Homo sapiens: one gene and its partners. The protein of the gene in region 1 purifies or fractionates together with the protein of each later gene. This does not show direct contact. Each region holds a gene or a part of one and is shown on either strand. Other genes may lie near its edges.

What was found. Proteins that work in one complex are often made in the same cells at the same time.
Region 2: the proteins of DDX18 (region 1) and PINX1 purify together in Homo sapiens (co-immunoprecipitation; one large-scale study listed by IntAct). This does not show direct contact.
Region 3: the proteins of DDX18 (region 1) and RRP15 fractionate together in Homo sapiens (co-fractionation; one large-scale study listed by BioGRID). This does not show direct contact.
Region 4: the proteins of DDX18 (region 1) and NOL10 fractionate together in Homo sapiens (co-fractionation; one large-scale study listed by BioGRID). This does not show direct contact.

Annotation. Positions count from the first base shown.
Region 1 is NC_000002.12:117,816,719-117,821,190, forward strand, and holds part of DDX18 (ATP-dependent RNA helicase DDX18), read left to right. Parts: intron 1-725; coding exon 726-1,010; intron 1,011-2,930; coding exon 2,931-3,074; intron 3,075-4,442; coding exon 4,443-4,472. UniProt on the Homo sapiens protein: ATP-dependent RNA helicase that plays a role in the regulation of R-loop homeostasis in both endogenous R-loop-prone regions and at sites of DNA damage.
Region 2 is NC_000008.11:10,819,376-10,822,875, reverse strand, and holds part of PINX1 (PIN2/TERF1-interacting telomerase inhibitor 1), read left to right. Parts: intron 1-2,606; coding exon 2,607-2,683; intron 2,684-3,500. UniProt on the Homo sapiens protein: Microtubule-binding protein essential for faithful chromosome segregation. Mediates TRF1 and TERT accumulation in nucleolus and enhances TRF1 binding to telomeres. Inhibits telomerase activity. May inhibit cell proliferation and act as tumor suppressor.
Region 3 is NC_000001.11:218,333,793-218,337,292, forward strand, and holds part of RRP15 (RRP15-like protein), read left to right. Parts: 3' UTR 1-3,500.
Region 4 is NC_000002.12:10,570,254-10,572,614, forward strand, and holds the end of NOL10 (nucleolar protein 10), read right to left. Parts: intron 1,938-2,361; coding exon 1,818-1,937; 3' UTR 501-1,817; downstream 1-500.

The sequences.
Region 1 (4,472 bases):
ATTATGTGTGCTGTACTTTATACGACTGGCATTACAGTAGATTTGTTTATACTAGCATCACTACAAACATGAGTAATATGTTGCACTACGACATTGCAGTTACTGATGGCACTAGGTGATAGGAATTTTTTAGCTCCGTTATAATCTTATGGAGCCACTGTATATGTTGTCCTTAATTCACAGAAATGTCATTGTGCACGCATTACTGTATTTGCATATGATAAATATTGGAGCAAATAAGTGGTCTTATCAACTGAATTTTCAACTCACTGCAGTCTAGAAGAGTTGGGGTTGAATGTTTTGAAGTGGTATGAAAAATAGTACTTGTGTGAATGAGTTGTAAATGTCTTTTTCAATATATCAGTTAATCATATGTTTATCAAATACTTATGTTTATTCTGTAACTGCCATTATCTGACCTCATCTGTTTAAATATTTGACCTCATTGAAGTTTTCCTGTCCTAGACTCCTTAAAGTCAGATGTACGGTCTTTTGCAGTTAAGAAATCAATATAGCTTTCCCTTTTCCAGTATTTTTTCTTTAAGATAACTTACTTTCCCTATAAGGGAACACCATAAAACTATAAGTTGTTTTAATTACATGAAAGAGAAGAAAATCTAAATAATTTGTGTCAGGAAGCCATGGAAGTTCTCATTTGGGATTTCAGTGTTTCTAAGTAAACTTCTCCTTCTTTGTCACAGTATATGTTCTGTTTATTTAAACAGGGGCCTCAAATCTGACCCTATCGGAAACTCAAAATGGAGATGTATCTGAAGAAACAATGGGAAGTAGAAAGGTTAAAAAATCAAAACAAAAGCCCATGAATGTGGGCTTATCAGAAACTCAAAATGGAGGCATGTCTCAAGAAGCAGTGGGAAATATAAAAGTTACAAAGTCTCCCCAGAAATCCACTGTATTAACCAATGGAGAAGCAGCAATGCAGTCTTCCAATTCAGAATCAAAAAAGAAAAAGAAGAAAAAGAGAAAAATGGTGAATGATGCTGAGCCTGGTAGGTATTTATTATCTTTGAACTTCAGCCATTTAGTTTTTCACAGACGGTTATTGTTCCTCTTTCTATTACTATTGTGTGCACATGACATGAGAATTCCCTGTACTCACCAGTATGTTAGAGATTAGCCTGGTAGCTAATGGAAACATTTTATTGGCAGAAGCGGGGAGTCCATTTCAACTTTTCTCAAAATATTGAGGAATATATTTTTAATTTCACTAACCTTGAAGAAAACCTCTCTCAGAAAAGACTCTCCTTAGAATTCTAGAAATTTTCTCTTCTTTTTAAGTTACCTTTTTTCCTGCTTGATTCTTCCCATTTTCCTTCCATAAATTCCTCCCTTTGAAAGGAATATTAGTTACAAAGTATATAAAGTAGGAAACTTCTGAATAAATGGAACATTAATTTCCAAGTGCTAAGAATGGCAGGAGGAAAAGGAAGGAATGTTTTTTGAAGATGATGGAATTTCAGTAAGCTCGGATGAAAGAATGGACATTATAATTGAGATTTGTATAAGCAGAGATATCAAGGTAGGATAAGATAGGGGTCAGCAAACTATCCCTCCTTCTACCTGTTTTTGTAAATAAAGTTTTACTGGGTCATAGCAATGCCTATTTGGTTGTGTTTATGGCAACAGAGATCATATGACCTGCAAAGCCTAAACTATTTACTATCTGGCCCTTTGCGGAAAGTTTGCCAGCCCCTGAGTTGGAACATCCTATTCATGTATTTTACCTGAAATAAGGGTTTTATTTAGAAAGGGACTTTGAACTTTTCCAAACATGCATTACTGTCTTCATGATGCCTACACACAGAAGTCATTGTAATCCTGTTCTAAAATTATTGCCTTCACAATTCTTGTTTTGAGTATGCCCCAGGAAGTGGTATTATTTCTGCTCCCAAGCATTGAATCACAATGCTGGGCGTTTTAACCTTATGGGTTTTTTGTTTGTTTGTTTGTTTGTTTGTTTTATTATGAGATGGGGTCTCACTGTGTTGTCCAAGCTGGTCTTGAACTCCTGGGCTCAAGTGATCCTCCCACCTCGGCTTCCCAAAGTGCTGGGATTACAGGCAGAAGCCACCACACCCAACCACCTTATGGGTACATTTTAGGAACTATTCCAGGGAAAACAAAATAAGCCATGGAGACCAGCTGAAGATATCTGTGGCTTTTGAACATGTAGGTCCTACAAAGTTGACTCTTTCCTGGAAGGGTGGCCGTCAGGTACAGGGAGGAGACCAGTACTGAGCTACAGAGAGTCCTGGGTTGTGGTCTAAGTTCTTTTCAAACATCACTAATTGCCATATAGTTTTATATAAACACAGCATGTGGTTAATCCATTTGACCCAGAGTCGAACATTGAAAAGAGAAGTGAGAGGTAGGACTGAAAAGGTAGTTGGGGCCACATGAAAGTTGTGAATGTAGAAATGAGGGTGGGAAGAAGCCCTGCCTTTCCTCCCACCCTCATCCCTGATAGCCAAGGCACAGTCCAGTGTATGTCAGCCAGGCAAGTGGGTTGTTGCCCTTCCTTTACAGTCTATCTCTAGTAACATGAAGAGCCTTTGATAGTGATTGGCGTGGGAAGAAAAATGACTACTTATAATGAGTTTTTAAGGATTATGTTAATCAGGTATGCTTCCTTTCCCCTCAGTGGAGTATGTGAAACTTATAATTGGTATGTTTATACTGTTTAGTTGAACAAAAGCCTAAAAGGTTTTGTCACCAAGTCTGTCTGTACCCTGGGTTTTTAAATACAACCACTCATTTTTCACCAAACAGAATTCTTAACAAATTAATACAGCATATACTTAGCTTTTGAAAATATACGTCTTTATATCAGAGATCTTCTGTTTGTTGATCTCATTTGGAATTCTATTTTAAGGAAAAATTTTTTCGGATTTTGTCTTTTAAAACCAAAGATACGAAAAAAGCAAAAACTGAAAACAAAGGGAAATCTGAAGAAGAAAGTGCCGAGACTACTAAAGAAACAGAAAATAATGTGGAGAAGCCAGATAATGATGAAGATGAGAGTGAGGTGCCCAGTCTGCCCCTGGGACTGACAGGTAACGTCCAGGAAGTTTTCTAGAGGTAACTTCTTTAAAATGTGCCTCTCTTAGAGGATTATAGGTTTGAAGGTTCAGTTGTGACTTTCAGTTTACCTGAAAAAAGTAACTATCAACAAGAAACTTTTTTTATATCTTTCTGCTGCTTTTTCTCTTTATCTTCTATTTTGTGGTGTTTTAGTTCTTTTTGTTCCCTGTTTTTTTCCTTTTGTTCATTCCTGACACCAAATATTTTATATGCACACTAGCAGCTTCTAGGATTCCTTGGTTTGTCCTTTTCTGAGTCTCATTCTATGTTGTAATAGGAAAATGATTGGCCCTGTACGAGGTTAACCTCCTTTGGCCTTTGTTCCTTTATAAAGTTGAGTTTAGGCTAGAATTCACTGCTCCTAACCAGATATGTCTAGGAGTTACTTGAGTTGTTTATTTGGTTTGGGTTGGTTGGTTTGTTAAAATGTTGAGGCCCAACCCTAGACCTGCTTAATCCAAATTGCAAACGTTTTGGTAGTAGCTCTCGAGCAGGGAAATTCGCCCCCCGAGTAAGAAGAGTAACTCTTCCTGGTTTGCCCAGAACTTTAACAGTTTTAGCACTGAAAGTTCTGAATCCCAAGAATCTCCTCTGTCCCTAGCCTACTGAGAAGATTGGTCATCCTAAGCCTAGGAGACATTTTTGGTTCTCAGAGCTAGGAGCAGTCTGCTGGGATCTGGTGAGTAGAGGTCAGAAACACTGCATAATATCTTATAAGGCACAGGATAGTGTTTCACAGCAAAGAATTATTCAGCCCAGATGTCAGCAATGCCAAGGTCAAGAGTGATTGGTTTACACCCTGGGCATGTGGAGTATGGGGAACCCCCAGGTGATTTTGATGCCTTCTGCTGAACCACCACTGTATTACTTGATACGTAGGCTCAGCCTAACATTCTGTGGCTGTATCTGACTCTTCTGTGTCTTGTTGGAGTGAGATTAACAGGTTTTTTTTTTATTATTGACTTCACACTCAGTTTTTATTAATGCTCAATGTTTTCACTTTTATATCAGATTTCTTAAACATTTCATTTATCTCTGGACTCTCATTATTTTCCTTGTTTTGGTATTTTTATTTTATATAAATTCCTTGGTTATACCTCCTCTCTACCCCTTGTTTTGTTATAGTATGGTCTCTGGACTATAACTCACACAGCCGTTAACAGTGGAGAAACTTGAAAGATATAGGGTCTTTTTCTTGATATTATCACATATGAATAATTAAGGTTTAGCCTTTTCTTACTGCGGGAAGCTTTTCTAAGCAAAATAGATTTAGGCAACTGTAGCAATACTTTTTTAAAAAAAAAGATAAATTTGCTAATGATAAATTGTCTTCTGTTTAGGAGCTTTTGAGGATACTTCGTTTGCTTCTC
Region 2 (3,500 bases), on another chromosome or scaffold:
AAACCTTAAGTGTTTTTTTATTTTAGCAAACATATTCCTTGCCCTTCACTTCTTTACTCTCGGCAGCTCAACTCTGCTTTTCCATAGAGTTGGTTTTTTGAGCCTCAGTTCTAATACAGCTTGTTGGGTTATTGCTAAACTGTTTCCAAATCATCTTGATTCCTAAGTTCTCGTGTCAATGAAAGTTTTAGTTGCCTCCCATGTGTATTTCTTGGTATTGTAAATGTGTCTGACTATAGCAGTAATGTTCCTCCCTTCCCAGTAGCTACTCTGATAGACTGGGAAACTGATAATCATGATTATTAGACAAACAGCTAAAGCAAACCTAAATAGAGTGTTCTTCCTTGAAAGTACCTGCTCATCCTTGCAGGAACTTTCAGTTTGACTCTTGGAGGCCTTTCTTACTGGTTCTGGAAATGTTACGCATTGAAGACTAATAGATGAACCAAATCCAGATAGATGTTTCCTATTCAGTTTTCTTCATTGTCGTTTTCTCTAAGTTTATCAACAGTATTTTGTATGATTTGACCATAATTCAGAACTCAAACAAATAAGCTTTTTAAATGCTTTTTAAATTTGTCGTATTTATTCAAAAGCGGCCATAATTTCCTGGTGTTTATAAGCTTTCCATCAGGACCATTAATTAGTAACTATCTCAAGGTCACTTCCATCTTCACCTTTTTGTCCACCTTTTATGTTCCTTTCCACTGGTCTCTGACTCTTCTTTCTTCTCTGTGTTCTTGTTTTCCAGATCAAATCCAGAGCAAGGCCTGTAACAATCCTGGTTTCTACATTTACTTAAGTGAACTTTGCTAAAGGCTAAAAATTTCTGATACAAGAATCCATCATCAAAACTTTAGACACATTTGCACCTTCATTGATATAGCTTACTGTCTCTACCAGCTTGACAGTTTTCCCTTTGACTTTCAGATCTGTTTTGAATCTGTGTGTTCACATTTTGACATCATGTTTTAGAACTGTGATCTCGCATGTACCCTCTCTTCCTTAATCCCTCCAGCATTCCTTTTAGTCAAATTGCTATAGAAGAGACCTTAATTTGCATTTTCTAGAGTGTCTCTATTCCAGAGGATAGGTTAGGGATAGATGGCCAGTACACATTTTGAATTAAGTACAGCTGCCTTTTCTGAAGTACAAACTGTGCTTTGCATTGGAAAATGGGTTGTGCTGGCAGCAAAGCTGTGAGGACATCTCTACACCTCCGATGAGTTTGTCCACCTCTTCCCGCTACAACCAGTTTTCTTCCCCACTTTCCCGGTTCATTTTCTGCCGTATCTGTGGTGTGCATCGTCTATTCTTAAGTAGGTTTTCTTTTGGGTCTTTTTGTGTAGGTCCTATTTAATCATAAATGAAAAGCAGGAGGGCTTAGTGTCAAGCTCAGGTAGGAAGGAGAGCAGCAGCCAGAGCCCAGAGGAGCCTGCCCTCCTGGCAGGAACAGGTCATACCGCCTGGGCCACTTCATCTGGTACTGCTGCCTAGGAAACTGGTTTTGGCACCTGGTTTTGCATTAAATTGAAGAGTGTTTTGTTTTTTTAATTTCACGGAGTCACTGAGCAATATCATATTTAAGTGCCCCAGTGATAGTGAACTAGAACCTTCTGGGTCATGACATTACTTTGCCAAGGCAGTGTGCTACAGGAAACCAAGAAGACAAGTGAGTCTGTGACGGTGGAACTCGGCTTCCAGCGTGAGACTCACATTCCTGTGTCTGACCCAGAACCTCCCTCGCCCAGAGCCTCAAGCCTTTACATGGAGTAGTTACATTTTAAAATGCATTTACCATGCCGTTGACAAATGGGACTAGATTTGGCCTACTGCTCACAGAGGATTATTGGGTAGAAGTGGAAATTCCAAAGAAGTGAATTTTAAATTAGTTGGTTTGGGGGTTTGAAATTAAAGAGTTTAGTGTTTTAAATAAGAACCATAGAGCCATTTAATTTCCTACTCTCCCTATGTAGCTTTTTATTTAGAGACAATATAGCTAGAGCAGTAAAGAACATTTTAAGAAGAAAAATCTGAAACCCTGTCACCCTTTTACAGTATTTTTGATTTACATATATTCTTTTAAAATTTTTATTTGTTGAGTTAATTATTAAGATCCTGTGTGTCAAATATGATACGTTCTCATTCATGTGCATATGTGGGGTCTGGAGCTGTGTATCTAGTGATATTTTTTCATGTGTATTTCGTAATCTTCTAAGTAAGTAGCTCATGTCTCTGAAGCAAATGAGATCTATTTTTAAATGAAGAACCCAGAGACCCAGGAATTGCATCTTGAGGGCATAGCGGGAGTAGGGTGAGCTGTAGAATTTAGCTTTCCTTGCAGTCAGTATGCTCTAGGTTGTTTCTACAATTAAGAGAATGTCAAGAGTTCTGGTTCTAAAACATTTACTTGGTTTTAAAATTTAATTAATTTTGTTTACTAATGAAAGAGTTGTAATGAAAAAGTGGGTAGAAAGTCAGTAGTTTCAAAATTGTTTCTTTCTTTCCCAAAAGCCATTTTCCTTTGAGGTGCTGCATAGTTCATGTCTGCGCTCTTTCTTTTAGGAAGAACAGTCTTACTGAAAAGCATCACATTGTTTTTCTAGGGAAGGATCTGTCATCTCGGAGCAAAACAGATCTTGACTGCATTTTTGGGAAAAGACAGAGTAAGAAGACTCCCGAGGTATAAAGCCACGTACAGTTTCCGTGTTCCGCTTTAATACTGTCTGATTTTCACCTGTGTATAGGACTGTTTCTATCTATGACTAGTACTTTTCTGACAAACTTTCCAAAACACTTTGGAGGCTTCATGCACAGCCTAGATATGATCCTTTTCATAATATTAGTGGGTAGATAATGTTTTATAAGGAATCTTTAAAAAAAAGAATAAGTGTTTTCTGGTGTTTGGCTTTTGTTCTTTTTGTTTTGGTGTGAGGACTAGATTAAACTTGGGGAAGAACACCCATTGCCGATACAATCAGAGGGGAAAATATCTCTTCCATGGCCGAGAAGGGGAGGGATTTTGTCTGTTCTGCTCAAACTGCATTACTCCACTTGGAATGGAGGTGGGAGGAAGCATGTCACCTTCATTCTCTAGAACCAGCCTGTCCCATTCTAACAGCATTTGAGACAGCGCTAGATCAGCACCATCTATAAGGGGGTTTGATGGGTATTTCCTCTATTATACAATATTATTTGCCTTACAACTAGAAGAAAAGAATGGGGTGACTAAACTACACCCTCAATGGAATGAACTCCATAATTTATTCTAATTATTAAATTGGGCTGTATAATATTGCAAAGAATTTTTTGTGCTGTTTTGAAGTGTAAGAGACAGCCCTGGATATAGTTTGAGATATATTAGGATTATGGATTTCTAAAGATAACAGGCTAAAAGTATTTAGAACTGGCATTGTCTGAGAAAATCTGGAATATATGGTTGTGACCACTGTTACTCAGCTAATCTGGTATGTTGTACTGATGATCTTTTATTGGTTTGT
Region 3 (3,500 bases), on another chromosome or scaffold:
CACCTGTCTTTGAATTTTTTAACGAGGGGAAAGAAAACTGCAATTCCTGCCTCCCCATTTATTTAAACATAACACCTAGGATTTTATTTTTGGTAACTACTTAGAATAATATAGTAGGTTACTTATCTTCGGTTAGAAAGAACTATGGAAAATAGGAACCAATAATTTGGAAGTATTATTTCCTTATTTCATATATAGAAATAATTATCTTATTTCCTTATTTCATATATAGAATATTCTAGATACTTGGATGGCTGGGGTTGATGTTCTTAGTATTTATCATAGTTTAGCATTGGTTGTTATTTTTAAGCATCAGAATTTGAAAGCCAATGATAATACCTGATTAGGACTGAAAATAGAATTATCTTAGTAGTTTAGCACTTTTTATAATGGAGTTGGAGCACTGAATTTATTTTCAAATTACCTAGAATTCTGCATTGCTCAAACATTATTCAATTGATTGCAAAATATACCTTGGAAACCCTTTGGATAGAACAGTTCAGAGGGTTACCACTAGTACTTAGAGCCTAAAGTCACTCAGTAGGAGGTTCTCAAAGGTCTATTTGAAGGCAATCCAATTTCTTTAAAATAAAATATTTTTTGCCTTTTAAAACAGATGGGTGAAGAAAGGGACGTATAAATTCTGGGAAACCTCTTATGTTTTCCTCCCATTTCCTTCTATGTCTCCATTAATGTGCTAACTTGAAGGAATTTAACTTCAAGGAAAGTTGACTGATGAAGTTTATGTAGAGCTGTGAATATTATAATTTGTCAATACTTTATTGATAATGTTAACTTTGTTTTTATTTGGAAACATTTTTTCCAGTTGACCAAAGCAGAATTCATTCTGTTCTTCCCTCAAATTCATCTATTAGGATCAATGTGATTGACATTTATCTCCACTCTGCATGTCACTGATATGGTATAGACGCTATAAGCCCTGTAGATATTATGGGTATGAAGACTATTTGAGGTGAATTGGCAGTGAGAGCAAATTTTGGAAACAGGAGAGAGAACTACTTCGTGCCTATAAAAAGCTCTCTCACTCCTTCCCCAAGAAAACAGGAGTCTGAATTTTGGCCAGCTGGGTATTTGAATCTTACTGACTGTTGCAGCACTGGTAGTCCTGGTAAATTTTTTCAGTGGGCGAGCTTTTCTGAAATTTGATTAAACATATTAGTCAAGGGAATCTGTGAATAGATTTAGAAGTAGAATGTTTGAGGTGGTTGACAAGACATTTAGAATTGTGATTAATGTTTTAATAAAATGCTAAGTTAGAATGAATAATCATAATTATATAGATGGAAGATATATTCTAACAGTTCTTAAATAATTTTAGATTCTCTAAATTTAGAGTGTTTTCTAGCTTAGAGAGCAATATTAATATTTTTTACCTAGTCTACTGAACATAATTTCAGGGAGTTAGTATTTAGGACTTTTTACCTAGAGATGCGGTAAACCTTTTAAATTTAAATTTGCTTTCTTAAAATACCTGTTCCAACATTGCTCACCTTTCTTCTCCCTCCTTTTTGCCCTCTCCTTCAGTGGGAGGAGCACATATTCAGCTTTCTGTTAAACACTCTTTGGTTTTCAACTGAGTAAGGCAAGCAAGGATATATGTTAGAAGAGTGGGCATAATACTTTATATTAAAATTATAGGGACTAAAAGTCTAAATCATTGCTGTCAATAGGACTTTTTTTGATGATGGAAATAATTTATGTCTGTGCTGTTCAATATGGTAGCCACTCGCAGAGGTGACTACTGAGCATTTCACGTGTGGCTTGTGATACAGAGGAACTAAATTTTTAATTTTACTTAATTACTTTAAATTTTAAAAGTTACACGTGGCTAGTGGGTCTATCCCAACTATGAAGAGAATAAAGCTACAGAGCATCTATCTAGTCTAATGAAACAACAGTGAATTTGGGAATTGTAAATCTGTCTTAAGCTTTTTCCATAAACTTTTATTGATATAATTTAGGCATATACAAATACTGGTGAAATTTTATTGATTGAATTATTGTTGACTTTTTTTTCAGTATTTATATTTTTAAAAAGATATGTTTCTTTATAATTAACTTGTATTGTAGGGTAACCATTGTCCTTAAATGTTAAGCCACTTAGTTAATAACAAATAGCATTTGGTTTTTTAGCATTATTTATCATCTGAGGCTTTCAGAATTAATGCACCAAACCTTAAATATTTTTGTTGTTCTCTAAAAGAATGGGTTTATGATGCACCAAAAGGACATTTTGAGAACTGCCGGAGCAACAGATACCACCATGTAAGGAGTGAATTCCCATGTTTTTCACTTATATCTAGAGGCCTACTTATTTAGGAGGTTTCCTAAGTAAGTGTATTTAGTTGTAGGACCTTAGAGTTGCCTAGGTCCATTCTATTCTAGCATATACTCAACATACTGCCAGAGCAAATGTAGGTTGCAGATTCAGGCAAAACACACACACACACACACACAAAACCCTGAAGAGCACAATGAGCATTATTAGCACAGCCAATTTAAAATGATGAGGTGTTAACCACATTTGTATAAATAATAGTTTCTCTAACCCTGAATCATTATCCTGCATTTTTAATGCAATCGGTTCATAAACATCAAAGTGAAAACACCAAATTTGTAAGAGGTCAGGACCAACTGGGGCTCTAAATGGAGAGACAGCTGAGAGCTGTGTCCCTATGCGTGGGTGGCCTTGCAGCTGTTGATTCACCCTCAGGCTACCAGACAGTTGCCTCTTTGCATTTGCAGAACCAGACTTCAATCTTAGGTAAAAATGTATCCCTCCCATGGACAGGACATAAACAATAGATTGACATCAGCTCTGAAAACAGTGCAGCAGCCAGACTCAGCAGTTGCCCTGAAATACTGAGAAGTACCAAGCATAACATCAAGACTGTTTCTACACAATAATATTTGTCTTTGTACAGCAACACTGGGTTCTCTTAAGTATATTATAAATATAAAAGCTCAAAGTCCAAAAGGTTCAATGTGATGATATCCTTCTCTACAAATGCCAGGAACACCAGGGTAGATTGCATGAGACATGACTGCCGTATCTTGGTCCTTACTAGGATTCCCAAATATACTCCTTAATAACCAGTAAAGTTATATTTACACTGGACATTTTAAGAAATACCAGTGTTCGTTGTTAGATGAGAGACAGCATAATTTTGGAATCACAACTGAGTTCAGAGTTCAGTTTTGAGTCCTACTAGTTTTGTTTCCTTGTGTAAGTTTCTTAACCTTTGTAAGGCTAGCATGTAAATCAGATACAATAATATATAGTTCAGGGTGTAAAGATTGGATTAATGTATGCAGTGTCTATCTAGCACAGTGCCTGTTATGTAGTAGCGTGTCAAGAGATGTTCTCTCTTATGCATTTGGAGGATTAGGTGCTGCACCTATAGGTTTCCATTCATTTCTCATCTATGTAATTCTGAGTCTTCCTTTTCTAGATAGAATTCCCCCCAACAAAAATTTAA
Region 4 (2,361 bases), about 110 Mb from region 1:
GGAGGCCTGAAGAGAGAAGGAACAATGGTGAGACAGGAGGAGGAAGGGAGGGAGTAGGGGAAGGAGAGAGAGAGAAAGAGGGAAACAGAGATAGAGTGCGCATGTGCTAGCTGACTGACCGTGGAGCCATGGATCTAGGTGTTCCTGAGGCCAGTTCCATGTCCCAAGCATGGTGATGTAAATTAATGCATTCTGCCTCTCGGCTTATGCTATTCGAAATTAGGCTGTATCATTCACAGTCCAAAGAGTTACTATTTCAGTTGTATATAAAGAACCTTAAAAATCTATAAAGGCACCTCCAAAATCACATCAAAGCTGGAAAAACTAAGGAAACCAAAGTTGGTTCTCTTCTTTCTTTTTTTGAGACGCAGGTCTTGCTCTGTCGTCCAGGCTGGCCTCGACTTCTCAGGCTCAAGCAACCCACCTCAGCCTCAGTAGCTGGGACTACAAGTGCACACCACCGTTTGACTAATGAAAAAAAAATTTTCTTGGAGTCTTTCTCAAAGAAGCTATTCAAATGAAAGTATATTTATTTTTATAAATGTTTCCTCCAGTAAGTTTATGTTTGACTGTACTTAAGAAACAGGAAAAAAAAAAAACCTGTAATTAAACTTGTGCCAAGATTAACCAACAGCCTCTACTGCTTGTTTCCCATTATTACAGGTTGGGTATCCCTTATCTGAAATGCTTGGGACCAGAAGTCTTTTAGACTTTGGTTTTTTTGTGTGTTTTGGAATATCTGTATTATATTTACTAGTCAAGTATCCCAAATCTGAAAATCCAAAACCTGAAAAGCTCTAATGAGCATTTTCCTCCAATGTCATGTCAGTGCTTGATATGGTTTTGCTCTGTGTCCCCACACAAATCTCATGTCAAATTGTAATCTTCGGTGTTGGAGGAGGGGCCTGGAGGGAGGTGACTGAAACATGGGGGCAGACTTCCCCCTTGCTATTCTGTGTTAGTGAGTTCTTGGAGATCTGGTGTTTGAAAGTGTGCAGCATCTGCCCCTTTGCCCTCCTCCTCTGGCTCTAGCCACGCAGGACATACCTGCTTCCGCTTCACCTTCTGCCACGATTGTAAGCTTCCCAGGGCCTCCACAGCCATGCTTCCTGTACCACCTGTAGAACTGTGAGTCAATTAAACCTCTTTTCTTTACTTATAAATTACCCAGTTTCAGGTAGTTCTTTATAGCAGTGCAAGAACAGATAAATACAGTGCTCAAACAGTTTTAGATTTTCGGATTTGGGATGCTCTCAACCTGCACCATTAGATTATACTCTCTTGGTATAAATTATTTAAAAACAAATCCCAAACTAATACATAAACAAGCCGAACAAACCTATCAGCATAAACTTATAAACACAAACACAGGCAATACACAGACACCAGGTAAAACAGGGATGGTATTTCTGGATGGTTTAATCATGAATGGCGGTAGGCAGTGTAAGAAAAAAGTTCCTAGAGCATGATAAACCTTGGTTTCTGGCACAGGATAAACCTTTCATTTCATGGTGTACATTTCACAATATTAAAAAAACCCCAGCCTGGTTTTCATGATTAACGCCGTGGGGAAAGGACAATGTTTCCAGGGAGCAACGACTCGCAAGCACACCCCTGGGGCTGTGCGGTGGCCGTCGGCGGGGCCAGCTTCAAAGTCCAACCCACAAGGCACAGGTTTTCAAATCTTTACCTCTGTGTACAAGAACGTACATGAACTTTAAAAACGTGTGTTTCCTCGTCTGTGTTTAACACCCTAACGATGATCAGTTTGGGGGAGACGTACCCCTCCCTAATCACAGGTAGGACCACTTCCCAAATCAATGAAACGACCGTCCTCTTTTGTGTCTTGACTTCAGGTGTCCGGCCGAACGACGGAGTCTTTTCCTTTCTTGTCGATGCAGTTTCTCAGCCTCCTGTTGCTTCTTCTGCTGTTCAGACTAAAAGAGAAAATGAAATGAGTAGAGGGAAAGAGAGAAAATTCTATACCTCTTTTCTGGTAACCGTCAGGCTGCCAACAGTACCACCACCAATCTCAGAACTGCTGCCAGGAGAAATGCTGCCCACAGGCTCCAGGGGACATGGTGGGGCTGCCTGGACTCTGCTCTGACAAATGCTACCCTGGCAGAAACAGCAGGACCAAGGCCAACTTTTACCATCAATGCAAAAGCAGAAATTCTGAACCCCAGGCAAGAGAAGGGCCCTGACAGACCAGCCTCCTACAAAGTAGGAGACTGGTTTTTCAACCAACACACTCACACAACCACTGGGATGTTTTAAAAGAGCCTACACAAGAGCCACCTTAAGAAGATGATATCACTTAGAGTGTCCACTTCCTTTTAGAGATCTTTGTTTACAAACTAG